3 linked regions of the Homo sapiens genome follow. The protein of the gene in region 3 purifies or fractionates together with the protein of the main gene of each other region. This does not show direct contact. Each region holds a gene or a part of one and is shown on either strand. Other genes may lie near its edges.

The links. The genes of interacting proteins can lie anywhere in the genome.
Region 1: the proteins of COL11A1 (region 3) and P4HA2 purify together in Homo sapiens (co-immunoprecipitation; one large-scale study listed by IntAct). This does not show direct contact.
Region 2: the proteins of COL11A1 (region 3) and ME2 fractionate together in Homo sapiens (co-fractionation; one large-scale study listed by BioGRID). This does not show direct contact.

Annotation. Positions count from the first base shown.
Region 1 is NC_000005.10:132,210,854-132,214,353, reverse strand, and holds part of P4HA2 (prolyl 4-hydroxylase subunit alpha-2 isoform 2 precursor), read left to right. Parts: intron 1-300; coding exon 301-438; intron 439-3,500. UniProt on the Homo sapiens protein: Catalyzes the post-translational formation of 4-hydroxyproline in -Xaa-Pro-Gly- sequences in collagens and other proteins.
Region 2 is NC_000018.10:50,917,118-50,920,617, reverse strand, and holds part of ME2 (NAD-dependent malic enzyme, mitochondrial isoform 1 precursor), read right to left. Parts: intron 3,272-3,500; coding exon 3,110-3,271; intron 2,509-3,109; coding exon 2,405-2,508; intron 163-2,404; coding exon 53-162; intron 1-52.
Region 3 is NC_000001.11:103,000,523-103,004,022, forward strand, and holds part of COL11A1 (collagen alpha-1(XI) chain isoform A preproprotein), read right to left. Parts: intron 2,747-3,500; coding exon 2,693-2,746; intron 2,270-2,692; coding exon 2,225-2,269; intron 1,960-2,224; coding exon 1,906-1,959; intron 1,448-1,905; coding exon 1,403-1,447; intron 1-1,402. UniProt on the Homo sapiens protein: May play an important role in fibrillogenesis by controlling lateral growth of collagen II fibrils.

The DNA of each region.
Region 1 (3,500 bases), on a different chromosome or scaffold from region 3:
TGAATGATTTGGAGCCAAGACTTCTGGACTCCTAAATATTAACCAATATGGGGGGCTGCTTCTACTTAGTTCCAAAGAGCAACACAGGCAGTAGGTATGGTGAGGAGTAAGAAAGGAAAAGTCCCCATAGACTGGAGTCATCAGGGACAACTTCCTGGTGGAAGGGGGCAACAGCCTTTGAGGGAGGGGGCGGGGAAATTTCACTAGCCAGAGACCCTCTTTGTGGCTGCCTCTCTGGTCCCAAGTGGAATTCTGCCCCTGGATCAAGGGTAATCTCTTGTTCTGACTCTCATTTGGAAGGTTTTATCGCCAACCTCTCTGTGCAGCGGCAGTTCTTCCCCACTGATGAGGACGAGATAGGAGCTGCCAAAGCCCTGATGAGACTTCAGGACACATACAGGCTGGACCCAGGCACAATTTCCAGAGGGGAACTTCCAGGTAACTCACCACTCCAGGCGTTGCCTGTCCCGCATGTGTCTCTTTAGTGGCGGGACAGGTTGGAGCCACCACCAACTTGTGGCCTTTAACCTCGGGTGCACCTCTGGTGCACCTCTTGGCTCACCAGTTTGTGCTGGACTCCCTCTCCCATGACAGGTTTCTCCCTCAGCCCCTGCCCTGCCACCTCCCTCCATGTATTAGCCAAGGCCCTCTCCTCTTGCATCTCAGAGAAAGCCAAAGTTGCTGCTCAGGAACCCCCTCCACGTCTGTCCCCAGAGCACCACACAGATCTGCATTCAGACCTGCTTCTTGTCTCCCACCCTCCAATGTCTTTTCATCTAAGGCTGATCTGGGCTTACTATCCCCCTGTCTTGAGTCCTCTTAGTTACAGTCTCTGCTCCTATACATTCTGTCTCCACCTCTCTGGGTTCTACCCTTGAGCTCCCATATAGGCTCTATTCTTGCTCATCTTAACACTTGCCTCCCTCGGTATCTGAGAGTCTTTCGAGTCTTTGCTGCTGATTCATCTCTTCTCCCCTCCTGGTTAGGCTACTGGATAGAGTAATCTACACTCTGTCCATTTTCCTGGTTCCCATATACTCCTGAACTCACAGTATCTGGCCTTTTTCCCCACTGTCACTGATGCTGTTCTTACAAGGTCATCAGTGGCCGCTTGGCTGGTAAACCCAGCGAACAAGGTTCACACATAATGTTCTTTAACTTCCCAGCAGCATTTGACAGATAGATTGCCTCATTCTTTGTGATGTTCTCTCCTCCTTTGAATTCTGGCATACTGATATCTGCTTCTCTTTTAGCCTCTCTGGTCATTTTCTCTCAAGTGGCCCCTCTCCCACTGACTTCCCAGTGTTAGTGTTTATAAGAAGATGTTTTGAGGGCTGCTGGAGACAAGTAACCCCAGCGATTCACTGTGTGAGGCTCATGCAGACCCAGCTTATTCCAGCTCCAGAACCTCAGCTGCCCCCTTTAGACTCCATTAGAGAGAGGGCAGTTCAGGGCACCTGCAAGATCTGTTCACTCTGTAGCCTTGAGATTGGTTGCTTGGAGGAGGGAACCATACCCTGGCGTTGACCTCTCACGTTCACTCAGCAAACCCATGAGTGTCCTGAATAGGGTTATGGGGCAGAAAGGAATTACTCCCTAGGACTCCATCCTTACCTCATCTTCTCCCTGAGCACCTTCCCCAGGTGAGCACAGCCATTTCCATCACCTGAGGTGGATGACATCCAGATCTGTGTTTCTTGCCAAGGCTTGTCTCCCGAGCTTCTAACCAGTGTAGACGGATGCCTTTGGGACATCTGTACTTGAATGTCCCATGGACTTCTCGAACTTCATGTGTCCTGAACTGAAATCCTCATCTCCTTGTAAACACTTTACCTTCCCCCTCATCCTTCTATCTCAGCAAAAAGGACCTCCATCCTCTGGCTGCCTAAGCCAGAAGCCTAAGGCCTATGGATTCTACCTCCTTCTCTCATGTCTTCCGTGCTTATCCCCTGACTCCAGCCTCACAGCTACTTTTTTCTCAATTTGATTATCAAAATACCATTCTGACTTGTCTCCTACCTCCAGCTTACTGCTTAAGACCATCCTCCATGTGGTCTTAAGCACACATTTGTTCACATGAGTTCCTGATTACTGTGCTTAATTTCCAAAGCTAAACCCAAACTCCTCCTGTGTGTGGTCTTTGGGGTCCTGCATGACTCCATTTTCCTGGCTTCCTTGCCCATTGTACTCAGCTTTCCCTATCACTCAGCTCTTTTGTCTCAACCCCTCTATAGGAATACCTTTACCCATGTCAGCTAGGCTACTCCATGTCTGATTGCCTATCAGCACTCAGCTCAGCTGTCACTCTCCCAAATGCTCTCCAGGGAGTAGACATTCGAGTTGGCTCTGGGGAGGATGCTGAGTGCCAGGGAGCCATTCTTAGCATTCTTGGCATCTGGGAGACATGTTGATAATAGCTACTGGTCATTAGCATCCTGGGGAGCATAGGAGACATCTTCATATGTCATCTTATTGAATTCTTGCCACAAGCTCTTTAAAATTGATGATATTATCTTTATTTAGAGATAAGGGGACTGAGACTTAGATATGGTAACTTGTCTATAGTCACACAGCTGGTTGGCGCCCTAGTGAGGCCAACACAAACCTAGTTTAGTTCAGCTCCAGAGCCCCAGCTCAGTCAGCTATGTTACTCTGCCCCAGCAATGTAGGTTCCTGGGCCTGCAGAGCCAGAGGAGACCTGTGGAGAAGGAAAAGGGGCTCCAGGAGCCCCCCAGTCCCTGGCCTACCTAGGGACTTCATCTTGTGTTTACTGTCCCCAACTTCCTATTCCTCGTTATTGGTTCCTGAGCCACCGGGGTTAGCAGACCCTGGTCTCTGAAGCATTTAGCCTACTGTGTAGTGGTTTCATTCCAGGCAGAAAGAGCCTTCTCTGAGTTCTTTTGTGTCAGCCATGCCCAGGTTGCTGTTAATGGGGCTGTGGGGAGTCTTCCTTGCTTTCCAGGGAGAGTCACAGCCCCCACTTCCCCTCCATGGTATCTGCTTTCTCATTATTCTCTGAGGAACCACACACATAGTCTTTCCCATCTTGAGCTCACCCTAAATCCTGCATCTCCCTATAGCTGCTTCTTCATATTGGCTTGAAACTATCTTCATGGTCACTTTCCAGCACTCCCTCTACAGCAGATGACCTTTGGTCATAAGACCCACTGAACTGATACTCAGCAAGGTCCCTGCCACTTAACAGCCAAAGCTGGCACTGCAACCTTGGCTCTTGGCCTCCCTTGGTGTCTCTCACACCACTCCCGCTCCCTCTGTTTCTCCTATCTTTAGTTCATTCTCAGGGTTATTCATTGTCTGTTCTTTCTGGGTAGGTGCTCCCTGGAGCTCTGGCCTTAGTCATCTTCTCCATTCTTTCCTCAGAGTTCCTGCAAGCTATTTTCCTCACCCATGGCTTGGTTGCCACCTAAATTTATGTTTTTTATATTCAGCTAATTTTTCCATCCTCTAGACTCATATGGCAAACTGCCCACCAGACATCT
Region 2 (3,500 bases), on a different chromosome or scaffold from region 3:
TTAAAAATGTTTAAAAAGTAGGAATCAAAACCCTGAAGTTTTTTTGCTTTACCTTGAATATCATCATTGAAAGTACAATATTTTTCTCGGTACTTTCTCAAGAACCTGAATGCATTATGATTTCCAAAGTCTTCGAACTGAATGAGTGTGTTCCGGCCATATCTAAAAACAGCAAAACCCACAATAGTTGTGTTGAAAATAACACTATTAAACAGCTTTCCACCTAATATTCCCTATGATAGCATTCAAAAATAATGTATTATGTTAGTTCAATTAAGGCCATCTGAAAAATTTCAGAGCCTGTGAAAGACTAGATCCAAAATGTAGAAATTATTCAATAAAAAAAGTATGAGGTGTTTAAAAAGAATGTGGCACAATGATAAACCCATGGGCTATCAATCTATGTAAACTATTTTCAAGTGTCCAGGAGGACACTTCCTTTGACTCTGAACCTCAAAAAATATATATTTGATATGTATATTCTCATTACATTAATAGTTAAACAGCAACACAAGAAAGTATATATTAAATAAGAAATTGAAAAATAATTGCTATTTGAGTTCACTGACATTCAGAAAAAGAAGATGTTAATCGTCTAGGTGAGCTCAAGTAGTAAGGGAAGGCTTGAAAAGGAGGTGGGCCCTGAAAGAACAAAAAGTAAAGAGCTAGGAAGAAAAGCAGGCTGTTATTAGGGTGACCCTGAATTTTCAACAGTCTGGCTATATATTTCATGGTTTACATTAAGAGATAAGGGAGAAATTGGTTAATGCAGGTTGGAACCAAATAAGGGAGGATCTCGAATGCTAAATTAGAGAAGAGGGACTTTCTTCTGCATCCCATGTAGAAACAGTGAAGGCTGCAGAGAAAGGAAAATATTCACATATGACTCCCTTTAGGAAGGATAAACCTGCCAGTGATACGTAGCTCATATTGGTGTGGGGAGACGGGAGTGGCAGAAGCAACTAGGAGGCTACTATGATACGAAGACAAGAGATCTGAAGCAGAAGATGCAGGAAGCAAAAGGAGTAACTATGAACTATTAGGATGAATAGAAATTGATAAGGATCAACTGGGAAATGAGGAAGAAGCTGTTACAATGTGAAGGTAATGGGGTAACTAAGAAGGTACTATTTGGTTGTCCAAGATAGGAAAGTGAGAGGAAGAAGGAGAGATGGCAATTTCTGAGAAGATGTAAAGTTCAGCTTTAGACTTGTTGACTTTGACTCTGAAAAGGAATTAATGTTTAAATATCTTCTACGTGCCAGCAATTTTAAAGGTAGGCCAGGGTTAGATCATTAAGGTAAAAGAGTTTGACTTTATCCTATGGCAATAGGAAACCAATCAGAGATTTCAAGCAAAAGAATGACAAAATGAAGCACACGTTTCAAAACAATTAATCTGGTATTAAGGTGGAGACGAACTGGAGAGGAGAGAAACTGGAGGAAGAATTAGAAAACTCCAGAAGAGAGATAAGGAGAGAGCAAGATTGCGGCAATGGAAAACAGGAGACATTTAAGTGGTAGTACCCACTGAATTTGAGGAATATCTGAAATCTGACTGACGGAGAAGGCAGAAGAGTCAAAGATAACACTAAGATCAAAGTTTTGGCAACAGGATGAATGTTACTGCCAATAATAGAAGCTGGGAATACAGAAGATAGGTTGTTTGGAAAGGAAAGGAGTTCAGTGTGGGATATGAATATGCACTCATAACAGAATACCCAGATGGAAGATTCTGATTATTAGAAATGCAGGCCTCACAAGAGCAGTGGAACTACAGATGGGTTTTTATGGGTTTAGTAGTAACATGCATAAAGGTCATAGTTGACATGGCTGAAAGAGAAGAGGACTAGGTAGTTATCCACATTTAGTAAGAGACAGCAAGAACCTGTGAAGATGACAAAAAAAAAAAAAAAGAGAAAGGTGGGAGAAAGACCAAGTTAGGAGGAAGCTGTTTAGCAGTCAAGAGAAGAGAGAGTTTCAAGGACATAGAAGTGGGAAAACCTGAGTTGACGGTGCAAAGAGGTAGAGAAGTGGGAGGACCCAATGGTCAGAGAACTTAAAATACAAAAGCTGCACAAGAGCTTCAGTGGAATGGTGGGCGTGAGCCTGAAGGTCAAGGCTGAAAAAGGTACTGAGCAGTAAGCGTTTGATGGAAGCAGTGAGGGCAGACTTCCCTCAAAATGTCAGGTAACTCAAGAAAGCAAGGCAGACCATGGGTACCACCTCATATCGGCACATCTAATCAGGCAGAAACAGCCAGGCAGAACAAAGTTCTCAAAAATTTAATCGCCTCCTGCTTATCTACACAGGAAAGAAATAAAGGAAAACAAAACAAAACTTTGGTTCTTACCCCACCCACCCCATTAAAGGTGCTTTCATATACTCAAACTTTTAAAAAATACCTGTCAGTAATAGCTTTCATAAACTCATCAATCAGGTCATCATACTGTTGTGTGCGATCTCGTTTCTGGTACAAGCCCATGTAAAATGGGTCTTTTAAGAGTGCCTACAAAATAAACCAAATGTAAAAATAAAATAATTTATATAATCAGTTTAAACACATACAATAAAAATTGCAAAATAAAAAATTACTAATACAATTTTTTAAATGTATTGCCCTACAAGAAACTTTATTTTTTCTTTTTTGAGACAGTCTCACTCTTGTCACCCAGGCTGGAGTGCAATGGTGTGATCTCGGCTCACTGCAACCTCTGTCTTTTGCATTCAAGCAATTCTCTTGCCTCAGCCTTGTAGCTGGGATTACAAGCATGTGCCACCACGCCCAGCTAATTTTTTTTGTATTTTTAGTAGAGTCTGGGTTTCACCATGTTGGCCAGGCTGGTCTCGAACTCCTGACTTTTGGTGATCTGCCTGCCTCGGCCTTCCAATGTCCTGGGATTACAGGTATGAGCCACCATGCCCGGACCAAGAAACTTTTAATAGACTTAATTTACTATTATTTATATAAATATTAAAAGTGGAGTTTAAGAAAAAAAAATCTAATCATAAAACTTTCCCTTCTTAAATTATCATTTTCAAAAAAGGAATATTGTACACATTTTAAAAAATACAGGAGGAAGATAAAGGGGGAAAATGATGTTACTCACGATATTATCAGTTCCCACATCAATACACACTGGCAGGCATCTATCAGGCCGTATTCCTGCACAAGCTGTATACAAACAAAGTTTTCCTACTGGAATTCCCATTCCATAGACACCCAGATCTCCAAGACCCAGAATTCTCTCTCCATCAGTCACTACAACAGCCTTAATCACAAAAAAATGCAAATTAAAAGTTGTCAAAAATGGGGCACTAAAGAAAAGCATTTTTTAAAAGATTGATTCACTTCATATATATTTACTCTTTGCTCTTAAAAATAAAATTGTTTCTTGGCTAATTTCCAATGTAAACCAACAAAGCATACTTAAAATTCTAGGACTTCTGAGTATTATGAGACATTAACTAGATTTGATTTCCCTCTGACTTCGGTTTAGG
Region 3 (3,500 bases):
TGATTAGGAAAATGCAAATTACAACCACAATGAGATAACATTTCACACCAACGAGAATGATCGTAATCAAGAAGACAGACAATAACAAGCATTAGTGAGAATGTGCAGAAATGACTATCCTCATACATGGTTACTTGGAAGGGAAAATGGTACAATCGATATGGAAAAGAGTGGAATTCACAAAATATTGAATATAAGTTTACCATAACACAAGAATTCTGCTTCTAAGTATATACCAAAAAGAATGAAAACACATCTATACAAAGACTTGTATGCAATTATTCACTACAGCACCGGTATGGAGAATAGCGAAAAAGTATAAACTACACCTATTCTATCAACTGCCAAGTAAAAGTAAACAGAACCTGGTATACCCAATCAATGGAATACTATGAGAACAAAATAAGGAGCAAAGTACTAATATATGTATGCTACAGCATGGATGAACCTAAAATGAAAGAAGTCAGACATAAAGGTCACATACACATTCATATGATTAAATCATAAATTTATTCATAAGTTTCATTCACATGAAATATTCAGAAAACTCAAATCTACAGAGACAGAAAGCAAATTAATTGTTAGCTAGGTCTGAGGGGGTGGAAACATGGACTGAATATTAACACGAGGATTATTTCTGGAGTGGTATAAGTATTCCGAAACTTAGATTGCAGCACATCTGTAAATTTAGTAAAAATAATTCACTTGTACACTTAAAACAAGGGAATATTTATAGTATTTAAATTACACTTCGATAAAGCTATTAGTTTTTTTTAATTAATATGTTTGTAGAAATCAACAAAAATAATGAAAGAAAAAAGGTGTTGGAAAGAGCCAGATAGAAATGTGCTATGACTACAGGGGACAAAATATTACTCAAGGAATCTCACAGTGGAGATCAGGGAAAAAGACATGTGTTTAATTATAGATTTATTCTTGTTTTGATCCAGACATTGAGTTATTAACAAGAACATCATTTGCTATTCATATATGAGATATAATGGCAATGACAACTTCACAACTTTCCTTTCATCATGTCTTCCTACAAATCTTTTGTCACAAGCAAACTTAATTACTTTTTTGTAAAATAATGAGAAAGAAAAGGAGACCTAAAATAAAGAGAAAATATTCACTCATACCGTTATGTTCCTGAAATTAACATAGCTGAGAATGCCACATTTGGAAGCTGTTTAAATGGTAACTGAAGTTTTATCATTCTCAGTTTAAGAACACATGAATGAAATCTCCCCACACTATATTTCCATGTCGACTCCAGATTAATTCCTTATGTGCTGAGCTATCTAGATATCTTAACAAAAACAGAAGGCAGACCTTATACCTGCCTAAGATTGCTAAAACAAACATGTTCACCAGGCTTTACGAGAACAACAGAGTAACTTACTTTTTCACCAGGAGGACCAATTGGACCTTGTGGACCAGGAAGACCCTATTTTAAAAGAATTTATTTCATATATCAGATATCAAATCACAGTAATATGCTTTTAAAACAGCAAATTATTAGCTCACTATAGTACACAGTGAGTTATAAGAATCTGTATATATTCCCATACACCCCAAGGAATTTTAGAACACGATGAGGAGTTTTACACAAGCTGCTCTTTTTTGCAAAGGGACTATAATGCGATCCTATTCAGAACCCTCCTGCAGGTGGCTATTAGTCCTGGCATTCCCTAAACATTGAATGAGTCATTTTTCCCTGGGAAGAGAGGGGCTTCTGCAAGTTTGCTCAAATTTTTTTAAAAAAAGAAAAGTATGTATTTTCCTACATTCACATTTTAAATATTGCTAGGACTACATAGAAAATTGTGAGACTGTCGATTTTCTTATAGAAAGATAGCATCTTCCCCCCATTATTTCAAAGGAGCTGCAGTGGCTTAGACTTACCTGAGGTCCTGGATTCCCTTGTTGACCTGGAGGCCCAGGCTCCCCTTGGGGACCCTGCCAGAGGAAAATATAAAAAGTTTTTAATGGGCTATATTACACAATAGATTTTTGTTCTTCTCAATTGGAAAATACCTCTACCCACCCTCAAACAGTTTTCCCTCATGAGATTCTGGAAAATATTTCAAAATATTAATGCAAGCTGTATCTAATATACTTAGCAAAATGTAATAAATCATTATATTTTAGATTTAACAACAAAAAATGGTTTCTTAGGGCTTATATTCAAATATGAGTTATTTTATCACTATTTGCTACATACCATGTTCCCTTTTGGTCCTGGGGGGCCATCTACACCTGCCATACCCTGCAATGAAGAAAAAGTATTTATGGTTGTTTATATGTTTTGATGCTAAAACAGAAAATCAAAAAGACTAATCTAATATCATGATATTCACTACCCTAAGCAACTAAAAATCATTTTAGGATTTAATGGAAACGAAGAAGAGACAAGACCTATACTTTCTTTTCCATGTCCACATTGGAGACAATCTAGCAACATTTTCCTCTGCATGCTGGGGATGTATCATGAAAACACTAAGATAGATAATCAAAAGGAAGATAGAAGAAAAGGAGGGAATGATGAGTTAAAGTGAAAGGCAGCAACAATAGATCTTCAAACATAACAAGGCAATAAACTCTTGGCTCTCTACTGAGGGCTTTTATGGCCTCTAAAAGGTTGGCAACAAGCTTTCCCTAGAAAATCTTCAATGTTTCCAGCAATACATACAGGCTGCCCTGGAGCTCCTGGAGTTCCCCTTGGACCCAGCAAACCTCGTGGGCCCTAGGAGAAAAAGAAAAAGCACGCCTTTATTAAAAAAAAAAAATGTCCTAATAACATGCCTCTTTCAATGAAGAAATCCTAAGGTTATTTTTAGAATAAAAATATTTGGACATCTTTTATTAACACACTGAAAGTGATGTCCATAACATAAATATCTAGTGTTTATACTGATCCAAAAGCCAGAATAAATAACAGTTTTTAGTACAGAAACTGTGTTTCTTTGATTCTATAATATTACATATGAATCACTTGGGGAATTTTTAAAATAGGAAACAGTTTAATATTTTCTATAAGACACTTTTGTGTCATTTTTTGATTTCAGTGACAGCATCGAACATTATTATTCAATCAGATATACTACATAAATAGAAGAGTCTTGATTCTCATTTATTGTACATTTAGGTAAATTTCATCTTAAGACAGCATTCACTGAGGAAAGAAAACGATCATCTGTGTAACTATATATGCAGATTACAGAAACCATTTTTCGAGGTTTCTTAAATTATTATTATTCACACTTGATTTCTCCTTCTCTTCTTTTTCCCCCTCCTGCACCTGCTCACCTTCTTTTCCTTCTTTAGAAAAGCCAATAAAATAATCTAATTTCTCTCCCATTTGCTTGAACTTACTTGACAAGGATCTAAAATGTGGCGCAAGGTAGAATGCAGCAATTTAAAACCAAAATTAGGAGGCCTATTTCCAGTTTAGTTATTTTGTTAGCTAGCTTCAAGTAAACCTTCCCAGATCAGTTTCC